Regions from separate parts of the Homo sapiens genome. Here region 2 is linked to region 1. Evidence: fine-mapped expression QTL. A gene starts in region 1. The other region holds a variant in brackets. All regions are shown on one strand. Distances are from middle to middle.

The links.
Region 2: its variant is fine-mapped to the expression of BEGAIN in whole blood (INTERVAL, PIP above 0.99).

Annotation. Positions count from the first base shown.
Region 1 is chr14:100,585,387-100,590,747 of GRCh38, forward strand. BEGAIN (brain enriched guanylate kinase associated) reads right to left here and starts at 2,031. Exons shown (of 7, transcript NM_001385089.1): 1 at 1,863-2,031. The coding sequence starts at 1,904.
Region 2 is chr14:100,541,514-100,546,874 of GRCh38, forward strand. BEGAIN (brain enriched guanylate kinase associated) reads right to left here. Exons shown (of 7, transcript NM_001385089.1): 3 at 4,988-5,149; 4 at 3,487-3,553; 5 at 2,345-2,452. It overlaps LOC124903382 (a long non-coding RNA gene), which reads left to right. Exons shown (of 2, transcript XR_007064334.1): 2 at 1-1,430. Among named protein-coding and RNA genes, the nearest start is that of BEGAIN, 43 kb to the right of the region's middle. The variant T/C (reference allele first, on the strand shown) is at 2,880.

The DNA.
Region 1 (5,361 bases):
CATCCCTCCCATCCATCCCTCCCTCCCTCCCATCCATCCATCCATCCATCCATCCATCCATCCATCCATCCATTCATCCATCCATCCACTCTTCAGCATCAGGAGTGCCTGCAGGAGTAGGGAAGCTCCTTCAAAGTGTTGCCGTGGAGATGATGCGTGGAAATGCTGATCCAGGGCCCAGTACATAGCAGGCGTTCCATAAATGGCAGCTATGTGGGCCAGACCCTGCGCCCAAGTCTTGGGAGAGTGGATGGAAGATCTTCCAGATTGCTTAGGGCTCATTTCCTCTCTCCAGGCCTGGGCTCTGACAGGTGTCCCCCTACTCCACCCCAGCGCATGGAAAACTCATCCTCCAGGCTGAGGTTCTAGGCAGCCCTCCCCTCCCCACTCAGCTCCCAGGTGCGAACAGCTCCAGGTTTTGACGACAAACGGAACGCGGAGCCTTGGAATCTATAAATATGAGACAAAAGCTGGGGAGGGCCCTTGGCGGCAGCGCAGCCGCCCATCGCCCAGAGCCCGTGTGCTGAGCCCGGGCAGAGCCGCATCTGCCACAGTGCTTGCTTTTCCAAGCTGCCCTGATTATAGTGAGAGTCGGGAAAATTAAGGGTTTGCAGGATGCTGCTGGGGCCCTCTCTGCCGTCTCCCCGCCCTGCGTGTCACAGATGCCAGGCAGAGCCACCCCCAACGGCCAGTTGCCCCTGCTGGCAAGACCAAGGCCAGCCTGGCAGGGCTGCACACCGCAGTTTGTTAGGGGCTTCTGCCCACAGTCCTCGTGGGAGCCTGGCCCTGGGAGTAGTGGGGGTCTCTGCTGCTCTTGGCAGGCAGAGGAACTAGGGTCCAGAGAAGGAAAAGAACCTGTCCATGGCCTCCAGAGAGCCAGAGCACTGGGGCCTCCGACGGAGCCTGGCTGTGGAGACCCCGCCCCACCCATACCCCCAGGGCCTGGACCCCCAGTCTGCACTGGCGGCCGACCTTGGCCATGCGGACTTTGCACGTGCAGTGCTCCCTATCCATCCGGCCCCGCTCCCGGGTGCCCACTCTGCTCCCATTCTGCCGGCTCAGGAGACTCCAGCGCGTCGCCCACGCTGTTCCTGCCCTGAGGAAACCACATTGGGGATGGGGTGGGGCACAGACGAGGAAGGAAACACCTCTAAACCAAGCAGGAAGCGGAAACGCTGGGGCAGAAATTCCCATCCAACGTGCTGGGGCTCAGGGAGGGTGAGCGCGCCGGCTGAGCCGCTCTGGGCGAGGCCCTGGCCTCCCTGAGCCTCAGTTTCCTCGCCTGTAAAGGGGCAGGAGGATAGTACCTGCCGCGAGGTACTGAATGGGATGGTGGTGTCCGAGGTTCGTGCGCGCCCACGCGCTGCAAACGCTCAATGAGGCGGCCCCGGGTCCAGCCTCCTTCCGGCTCCCGGGCCTTTCTCCGGCCTCCCAAGCAGGGGCTGGCCCTGCCCCCAGACGCAGGCGGGTCCAGGCCTGCCCGCACCCTCGCCACCCGCCCGGGACAGCGGCGGGTCCCCAGTCCTCCGGCCGCGCCCTTGGTCACCCGTCCCTCCTTTCCTTCCGCCGCAGGGGCGCGCGTGTCAGGGCGCAAGGACCCCGCGATAGGACCCGGGCGCTCCCGGCGGCGCGCGGAGGCTGGGCATCCCCGCCCCACCCGAGAGTGCCCAGTTCCCAGGAGACCCGGCCCGGCTCCTCCCGGGCCAGTGAAGCCTCCACGGCGGGGGCGCAGCGCGGAGGGGAGCGGGGCGGGGGGCCGGCCACCTCCCGCGCTGAGCAGGGACCGCCCCAGGCGTGGGTGGCGCCCGCCCCGCCTCCGCGCCCGCGCCCGCGCCCTGCCCTCCCGGCTCGCAGGTACTCACCGCCCGGCGCAGCCGGCCCGGCCGGCGACCGCCAGTCCACATGGCCCCAGGGCAGCCGCGCCGCTCACCGCCGCCGCCGCTACCGCCGCCCCCTCCCCTCCGAGGCCGAGCGCGCCGGGAGCCGGCGCGGCCGGGGCTCCCCCACCCCGCCCGGCTTCCCGCAGGGAGCGCCCGCCCCCCGCCCCCAGCCCGGCTCCCCGCCAGCCCCGGCCCCGCGCAGCCGCGGCTGAGCCCGCGCGTCCTCCCGGCAGCGCCCGGCCGGGGCGCAAGTGGTGGGCGCAGGGCCGGGCAGGGGCGCGGGGGTGCGGCGTGCGCGGGGGCCAGGCGAGGAATGGCAGAGGGGCAGGGAATGAATGAACCCGCGCCAGCTTGAATGGCTGAGCGCGTGAATGAATGAGTGCGGTAGAGCATGCGGGGCTGGGGGGGCGGGGGGAATGAATAAATGAGAGAACTAATGCACGGGCGCGAAGGTGAGTGACAGAGTGAATGGGCCCTTGAAACCCAGAGGCTGTCAGTAATGACCTGCCCAACCTTTTCATCGGTCCATCCATTCAATCCCTCAACATTTATTAGACACCTAGTGTGTACCAACCAGCCCTGCTGTAGGCCCCAGGGGGTACAGTAGCGAGTGAAACCAAGCTCCTGCCCTCGCAGAGTCACATTTTACAGATGAGGAAACCCTGGCTCCCAAGGGTGCCTCCTGGCCAAGCTGCCCCTTACCCTGCCCTTGCTCTGCCCGAGCCCCCAGTCGGTGGCTTCCAGGGCTTGCCTTCTCCCCAAGGAGCTCTCAGGAAGGGAAGGTGGCTTCAGGAGGACCAGTGTTGCCCCCTGCCTATCCCTCCAGTCTGAAGCATCCCACCGACCTGCCCGGTAGAGCCCAGGCTGGCCAGTCCTACCCTGGTAAAGGTGCAGCGTGAACCCTCCTCTCTCCTCCCAGAGCGGGCAAGGGGCAGCCCTGAGGGTGCCAGCTACATGAGGGTCTTCCATCCCAGCCAGCCCAGCAGCAGCCAGCGTGGGAACCCGGGGAGGAGCACTGGCAGCCAGGGAGGGTCCTGCGTGGTGGAAACAGAGCTGGCAAAGCCCGTGTGCTTCGCTCATATCCTCCCTCGGGACCTATGGGCTCATGGTTCACACATGCTTATATCATTTCCAAGTACATGGCAGATTAGAAGATGCTGCGAATGAGTACCTTGTATATTTTTGTTTTTTAATTGTGGAAAACATGGAAAACATAAAATTTACCATTTTAACCACTTTTAAAGTGTACAGTTTGGGGACACTGAGTTCCCACTGTTGAGCTGCCATCACCACCATCCTTATATGCTGTATGTTGTATGCTTTGCAGTTTCTACGCTCTCTCATTTAATCTGGGGAGTAGGTTGCTACATTCAGGCAGTGTCAGTGCTGAGAAAAGGCACTGATAGCAAGGCAAGAGGGGAAACCCAGAAAAAAAGGAGACAAGCAAAAGAACCAGCAGCTGACTGGAGCCACTTCGTGTCAAGCAAAGTCCTGTCTCTGCTCCCTCTCAGGTCCCAGGGACATGATTGGGTAACCAATGGACAGAGGGAGGCGCCTCCAAGTGCACCCCACCACAGTCAAGACAAAATGAGAGGCGGCAGCTCAGGGCGGGGCTCTCCCAGTTTGGGCGAAGCGTGGACAGACTTCGCCCAAACCGTCGCTGGTGTGCACCACGGGACCAGCCTCTTTGCTCAAGGGGGCCTTAGTCTCCCCAGCAGGAGTAGGGACAGGCTCCCTGACCTCCACTCTGGCCTCTCAGGTTCAGACACCATTCAGGCAGCACACAGCAGTGGAGGCATCCTGTGAGAGGTAGTGAGGCCCAGCCTGCCAGCTCCAGTGTCCCTTCCCTCCCCAGTCCCTAAGGGGACAAACACCAATGGGGGATGTGGAACCTGGGGTACAGGCAGGGCTCTGCCCACATTGCCTCCTCCTGGGCTGCGGCCCTTCCCCAGAGGCTGGTCCTGCTCAGATGGTGCCAGAATGTTCACCGCCCGCCCTGGCACTGCTGCTGCCAACGCCACAGATGGCTGGGGAGGCGGGGGAGGGGCGGGTGGGGTGGGGGCGGCTCCTGCTTCAGCTCCAGCAGCTTGCAGGCTTCAGCTCAGGCCTGCCTGGGAAGGCCCCAGGAGAGCCCCTCCCCCATGCTGCACGCACCTCCCGTCCCCACCCTCCCTGCCCTCTCTTCTATCCTTCCCACTCCAGCCCCCTTAAGCTAGGAAGGCGGAGAGAAAGCAGGCATTGGTTGTGGGTCTGGGAGCATCCCTGCAATGCCCCTGTAGGGGAAGTGGTACTAGCCCCTTTTTGCAGATGGGGAAACTACAGTCAGTGCAGCAGAGCCTGGGGCATCAGGCAGGCTTCCTGGAGGAGGCAAGGTTTCAGCCGGGTTGGGAAGAAGGGATGAAAGTGGCAGGACTTCGAGGTGATGCCCTGGGGCCATGGAGGACCCTCTCCTCAGGCCCCTGCCCTCATTCAGACCTCTACGGACCACTCTGTTTGACATCACCATCCCCATGGCTCAATCTCGTTGCCCTATTTTGTTTTTTGCGTGTCTCTTACTGCGTTCCAGAGCTATCTGATCTGTCTGTTGATGTGGACATCAATCTCCCCGCTGGGATGCGTGGTCCTCTACTGTGGTCAGGGAGCAGGGCAGGAAGTGGCACCACACTGGGGCTCATGGTTAAATGTGCCAAAGAATGCATGGATGGATGGAGGTGGGGGAGATAGGAATAGCCTGGTGTGATGCCAGGCTTCTGGCCCTGGTGGCTGAGTATAAAAGAAAGGACAGCACGTCAGGGAAGTCATTGACAGTGAGGCACCCGCAGACAGCCACATACAGGGGCTCCAGCATCAGCTAGCCATGCTGACCAGTTCCCTGCCTCATCTTCCAATCCCCACCCACAAGAACAGATTGAGCAAGGGTTCTGACTATGAGCCCTAGAGAATGGGAAGGTGAGAGGTATCTTCCCACTCTCCCACAAACAACAGGTGCTCCAACTGAAACTCTGGAGTCCCCTGCAGAATCGGGCTACAGCTGCCCTCCACAGGTGGTGAGAAGGCCCTGAATTGGCCCAAGTGTGTATCTAACAATGACCCCAACTGCAATATTAACCCAAATTCCAACCTATATCAAATGCTAAACCTAACTCTAATGGGACCCAAAACCAAAGCAAACTTTAACCCTACCCCAATGCTAGCCTGAACAGTAACATGAACCCTAAACCCGACTCTAACCCCAACACTGTCCTGCCAGAAAGCAATAACCTCAACCCACACCACACGCTAAAGTTAACCCAGACGCCAACCCAAAACCAAATCCCAAAAGGAACATTAAACCAAACCCCAACCCAGCCCTAACCCTAACACTAAACACTGCCAAAAACACCCCAAGCACTAGCCCAAATCCTAACCATAATCCCAACCCCAAACCTAAGCCTAATCCCAACCTGACCCTAACCCTAATCCCAAACCAAATCCTAACCCT
Region 2 (5,361 bases), 44 kb before region 1:
GCGTCGGAGTCGCCAAACCCCTCTCAGTGCCTCCCTGGGCCTCCTAGGAACAGAACAGCACGGCTGCCTGAGAGCTGAGAACTGACCCCTTGTATGACCCCAGTCGACCGGCTGCCCCTGGCACCAGAGGGCTGCAGGCACTGCCCAGCCAGCCCAGGTCTGCCACTGAGCCCCACCAGCCACAGCCAGGAGTGGCTGCCACTGGGAAGCCGGTGCCATGCCCATAGCCCCTGGGGCACCTGGCTGAGTACCCAAGCCCCTGGGCTGTCCATGTCTGAGGTGGCCAGCTCTGGGACAGCTGGGAGCCTTTCCTGAGCAGCCGCAGCTGCTGGCTCGGGGAGGAAATGCTCACGGGACACTCTGGCAGAGCGAACAGGTGGAGGCAAGCACTCTGGCCACCCAGGGCCCGGGGCTGCTGGAGTCGGAGTCCCGAGGTTGAGTTCTGGCTCCGTCTGCGAGACACCACCTGGGTCACCTGGGAAACCACTCAAGCTGGCCATGCCTTAGTTTCCTCATGTGCACCAACCCTGCAGAGAGGGCCCCAGGACTAGTGTCCACTTAGGTAAGGGGCCTGGCCTTGTCACGTTAAGAAGCACCTCCTGTCCCGAGCCCATGTCCTCCTGTCCTCCTGTTAGAGCCACACTCCTTAGAAGGGTGGCCTGTGTCTGGAACCACCGCTCCACTCCACCACCGACCTCCAGTTCCCCAAATCCCAATGCCTCTCCTTGGCCCTCTGACCTGGTCTCTCAGCAGCTGGCAAGCCAGCCGGCCAGGGCATTGACTGCAGCCCCCTTCTCAAGTGGTTGTTGGGCCACCATACTCGCCTGGTGTCCCCCAGCCTACTGGCCACTCCCTCCCAGGCATCCTTGCTGGTCCCTACTCCGTCCTGGGGCCTCCCTGCTTCTCATCTGCATGCTGCCTGGGCAGTCTCCGCCGGCATGCCGGCCTTCACGCTCAACTCCAGACCCGGGCCTCCTGCTGCCCTGGTGACATCTCCGCTCCAAGGGGTCCTGTGCATCTCCCACCCAGCTCCTGTCCCTCCCCAGCTGTCCCCAGCCAGGAAATGGCAGGCAACTCCTTTTGTTTGGGCTCTGAATCCTGTAGCTGGGTTGGACTCAGCTCTTCTTCTAACAACCCACATCCTAAATCTTGGTTAGTCCTGTTGATTCTATTTTCAAAACACAACCAGAATCCCAGCCCTCTGCCCAGTTCCACCGTCATCTGAGCCACCATCATCTTTTGGACTATGGTCCTGGCCTCCTCCTGATCTTCCTGCTCCTGTCCTCGTCCCTACAGCCTGTTTCCAGCATGGCAGCCACGTGAGCCCTGGGAAGCTGCACGTGCAATCACGTTGCTCCTCTGTTTTCAGAACCCTCCATGGCTCCCCACTGCACTCAGAATAAAGCCCAGGTTTCTGGGAGGAGCCTCTACAACATTGCCTCCTATGGTCTTTCTGACCTCAGACCCTGGCTCCCCCTCCCGCTGGGCGCTCCTTGGCCCCTTTGGGATCCTCCGAGTTAACCAGGTACAGCTGCACACCACGGTTGCTTCTGCCTGGAAGCAATGCTTCTCCCACGGATGTCTGCATGGCTGGCTCCTTCACTCCCTCAGGTCCTGGCACAGCAGCCCCTTCCAGAAGCACCCTCTTGAAATCTGCAGGCCCTGCAGCTGGCGACTCCCTGGTACCGTTCTTCGCTTTCTGTTTCTCTATAGCATTTCACACTTCTAACATACCCCAGAGTTTGCCCCACTCAGATGTGAACTCCACGTGGCCAGAGGTGTTTTTTTTTTTGTTTTTTTTTTTGCCTGTGTTGTTCACACCATCATCTTGGAGCCTAGTAGGGTCTGGCAAGGTAGAAGCTAATTCGTGAATGCAGAGGCAGCTGTCCAGGGTCTGTGGAGGGCAACTGGGCCCATCTCACAGGGTCCCTGAAATTAGGCCCCATGGGCAGCCACACGGCTGTGATGCAACACTGGGACTGGCCAAGGGCAGGAGTCCTGAGTGGCCATGACCCCACCTTGGGATCAGGAAGCCTTGCCTTGAATGGGATAATATGGCCCCGCATCCCCTAGCTCAAGTCCTTACAGCAGAGGGTCTGTTTAAGGACACCCTTGGCGTCCTCAATGAGACAGCACCATCTTTCCCCAACTGCAGCAGGTCCTTCTCAAAGCCCTGACCAGCCTGTCCATCCACCTGTACCCTGCACCAGCCCCTTGAGGCTGGGGCCAAAGCAGCTGAGCTCAGGACCCTTCAGAGTCAGAATGTGACTCCCAGTGCATCCTGGGAAGCCCTCGCCTAGGCCCACCGGCAGTCTTCCATGGGCCAAGTGTGTGCGGCACTCACGTTGTCCTCTGACAGCTTGTCGATGGTCACCTTGGCTTCTAGCAGATGGCTGTTGAGGGCAACAATCTCGTGGCTCAGCGCACGCTTCTCCTCCTCATAGTGCTGGCCCTGGGGGTGGGACAGTGGGAGGAGGAGGCCCGTGGTTGGCTCCTGGTGAGCCAACCCAGTCGCTCGATTGCACCCCCTGGTTTGTCCCTTGTAGCCATGAGTGACAAGACACTTAGAGGGCCAAGGGTGTGGGGTTTATGAGCACAGACAGACCCTGGTTCAATTCCTGGGTCCAACACTGCCAAGCCACACAGCCTTGGGGACGTCACTGCCTCTGAGCCTCAGTTTCTCATGTGCAACACAGAGGTGACAGCGTCCTGCCTCAGGAGCTGGGAGTGGGGACGGAGGACAGATGACTTGTGCCTGGCATAGAGCCCAGCCCACCTCACTGGACAGATTGGGAAACTGAGGCTCAGGAAAGGGCCGGTGTCCAGGCACCCAGGCAGAGCCAGGCCCAGCCCCCAGGCCTGCCACCCCCCGTCTCTGA[T/C]AGCACCACAAAGGTGGGCAGGTTGTTGCTTTCAAAACCAAAATGAGCTGGTCACCAAAGTAGAAAGAAAGGAAACCTCTTCATCCTAGTGAGGGAGTGGCACCAGAAACCCACACCCTGCCCCTCTTCGACATGTCCCAGCAGTGTGTTCACAGAGAAAATGGCGACCCCACTGAGGTCACCTGCAGGTGGTGTGAGGGTCCCCACAGAGGGGTCCCCATGAGAGGCGGAGCTGGGGCTCAAACCTGCCTCTGGCTCACCCAGGGCCTGAATTCGGGCCTCCCTATCCTCCTGGGCCCAGGTCCTTGGACTGGCAGGCTGAGCTGGGGGGCCCGTTCCCAGTGTATGTCCTCCGTCCACAGCCCCTCTTACACACCCCCAGGCTGGAGTGCTCGCACCCGCCACTCAGGCAGCACAGGGCAGCCCTGGACCCAAGTACTTCCTTAGCCTGAGAGCACACACCCTGCTCCACATGTTCCATGGAGAAAGGGGTGGGACCAGCAAGACCTGTGTCCCAGCTCCTGAGTGGCCCAGGGGTGTCAGCTGGGTGGCTCCCCCCGGGAAGGAGGTGTGGGGTGGGGGAGTGGGCGCTGCGTGGCGGCCTCACCATGCGGTACAGCTTGTCCTCCAGCTCCTGGTTGATCCTCTGCAGTGCCATGTAGTTGCTCTGAATCCTGGTGCAGGAGGCAAGGGGGTCACTGCCATGCAAGGCCTGTCCCTCCCACGACCCTTATGGCCGCACAGCCTGCTGAGCAGGGTGGGGCTGAATTTGGACCTCCTGAGCTCACCCCACCAGCTTCACCCTGGTGGAATGTGTGCCCCTCTGCACACAGCAGAGAACATCCCATTAAAGCAAACTTTTGTAGAAGCCTTTCCTAGGCCAGGGCCCAGGACTGTATTTCCCCCTCCACCCCGGGACCCCCTGAAGATGGGAAGGGAAGGCTTGTTATTCACAAGAGACTCTGTCCCATCCACACGCGGAGCCAGTTTACTCACATTTGACCCACAATTCTTACAAACCTGTTATGGGGTTGACAGTTCAAATGCAAATGAGCAGGGAAGAAACTTAACACTAACTATGTGATGGGCCCCAGGGTGAGGCTGGAGACATCACAGTGAACAAGACTCGGTTCTGCCGGGTAGGAGGAGTGGAGCTGAGTGTCAGGTGGGAATCAGGTGCTTGGAGATTCCATTGCTGGTGGGAGGGGGCTTGGGGATGGTGTCCAGCCTCAGACAACCTATGTGTCGTGTTATGGCCCCTGTCTTGCCAATAGGGAAACTGAGGTGAAACTTTAATTACTTAAAGCAGTAACTGGCAGGGCCCAGATTTTAACTGAGGTCTGACTGCACTGCCCAAGCTTGGTTTCCACATGAATGGAGGGTGACATTCAAAACACTCAGGAGCTGGGGCTGTTCGGAGAGGGACAAACCCTCTCCCTATGGCAAGTCCTCCCTAGGGGCAACACCAGCCGATTCTCTACAAATACCTAAAACAAATCAAGCCAACAGCAAAGGTTGCATGCTTCTTGCATTTTCTGTTTAAGAAGATGAGAAAGTGCATATTACATTTCAGAAAAACATCCATTTTAAATGTGCACAAGAAAACTGCTTTTAGAAAAGTTTGGTGTTTGAGGGAGTCCAGCACAACTGGATCGACACTTCATTAGCCCGTACGCGCTCAAGGGAAGGGTCCCTAAACTGGTTCATCTCCGGGCTAGACACAGCTTTTCCCATCAGGACCCAGGGAACCATGGCTGGGCCCCGGGTGGACCAGTCTGGGTCTGGAGATCTGCTGGGTTCAAATCCTGGCTCAGCTGCTCCATAGTGTGACTTTGGAGGAAGAGCTTCCCCTACCAGAACCTCTGGACTCCCCATCTGAGTGGAGTCAACAGCCAGGGTGAGAGGGGAGCACCGCGTGCGGCTTTCCGGGCCTCGGGCCCTGCCCCACCCCGGCCCTCGCCCCGCCCCGGCCCTCGCCCCGCCCCGGCCCTCGCCCCGCCCCGGCCCTCGCCCCGCCCCGGCCCTCGCCCCGCCCCGGCCCTCGCCCCGCCCCGGCCCTCGCCCCGCCCCGGCCCTCGCCCCGCCCCGGCCCTCGCCCCGCCCCTCACCTGCGCAGCTTCTCCGTGACCTTCTCCAGTTCCTCCTGCGCGCGCCGCAGCTCGATCTCCAGGTAGTGGCGCGTGGAGTCGAACTCGGTCTCGAGCTTCTCGAGCTTGTGTGTGGTGTAGGACAGCCGCTTGCGCAGCTCGCCCTTCTGCTCCTGCAGCGCGCTGCAACGACATGGCGGCGGCGGGCCGGGCCGCGGCGCTGAGCGGGGGAAACTAAGGCCCGCAGGCCAGCCGGGGCGTGCCGCACTAACACGCGAGTACCGGCGCGCGCGCGCGCGCGCACACACACACACACACACACACACACACACACTCACACACACCCAGCCTCCCGGGCGTCACTGAAGACCATGGCGCCCCAGAGTCAGGGACTC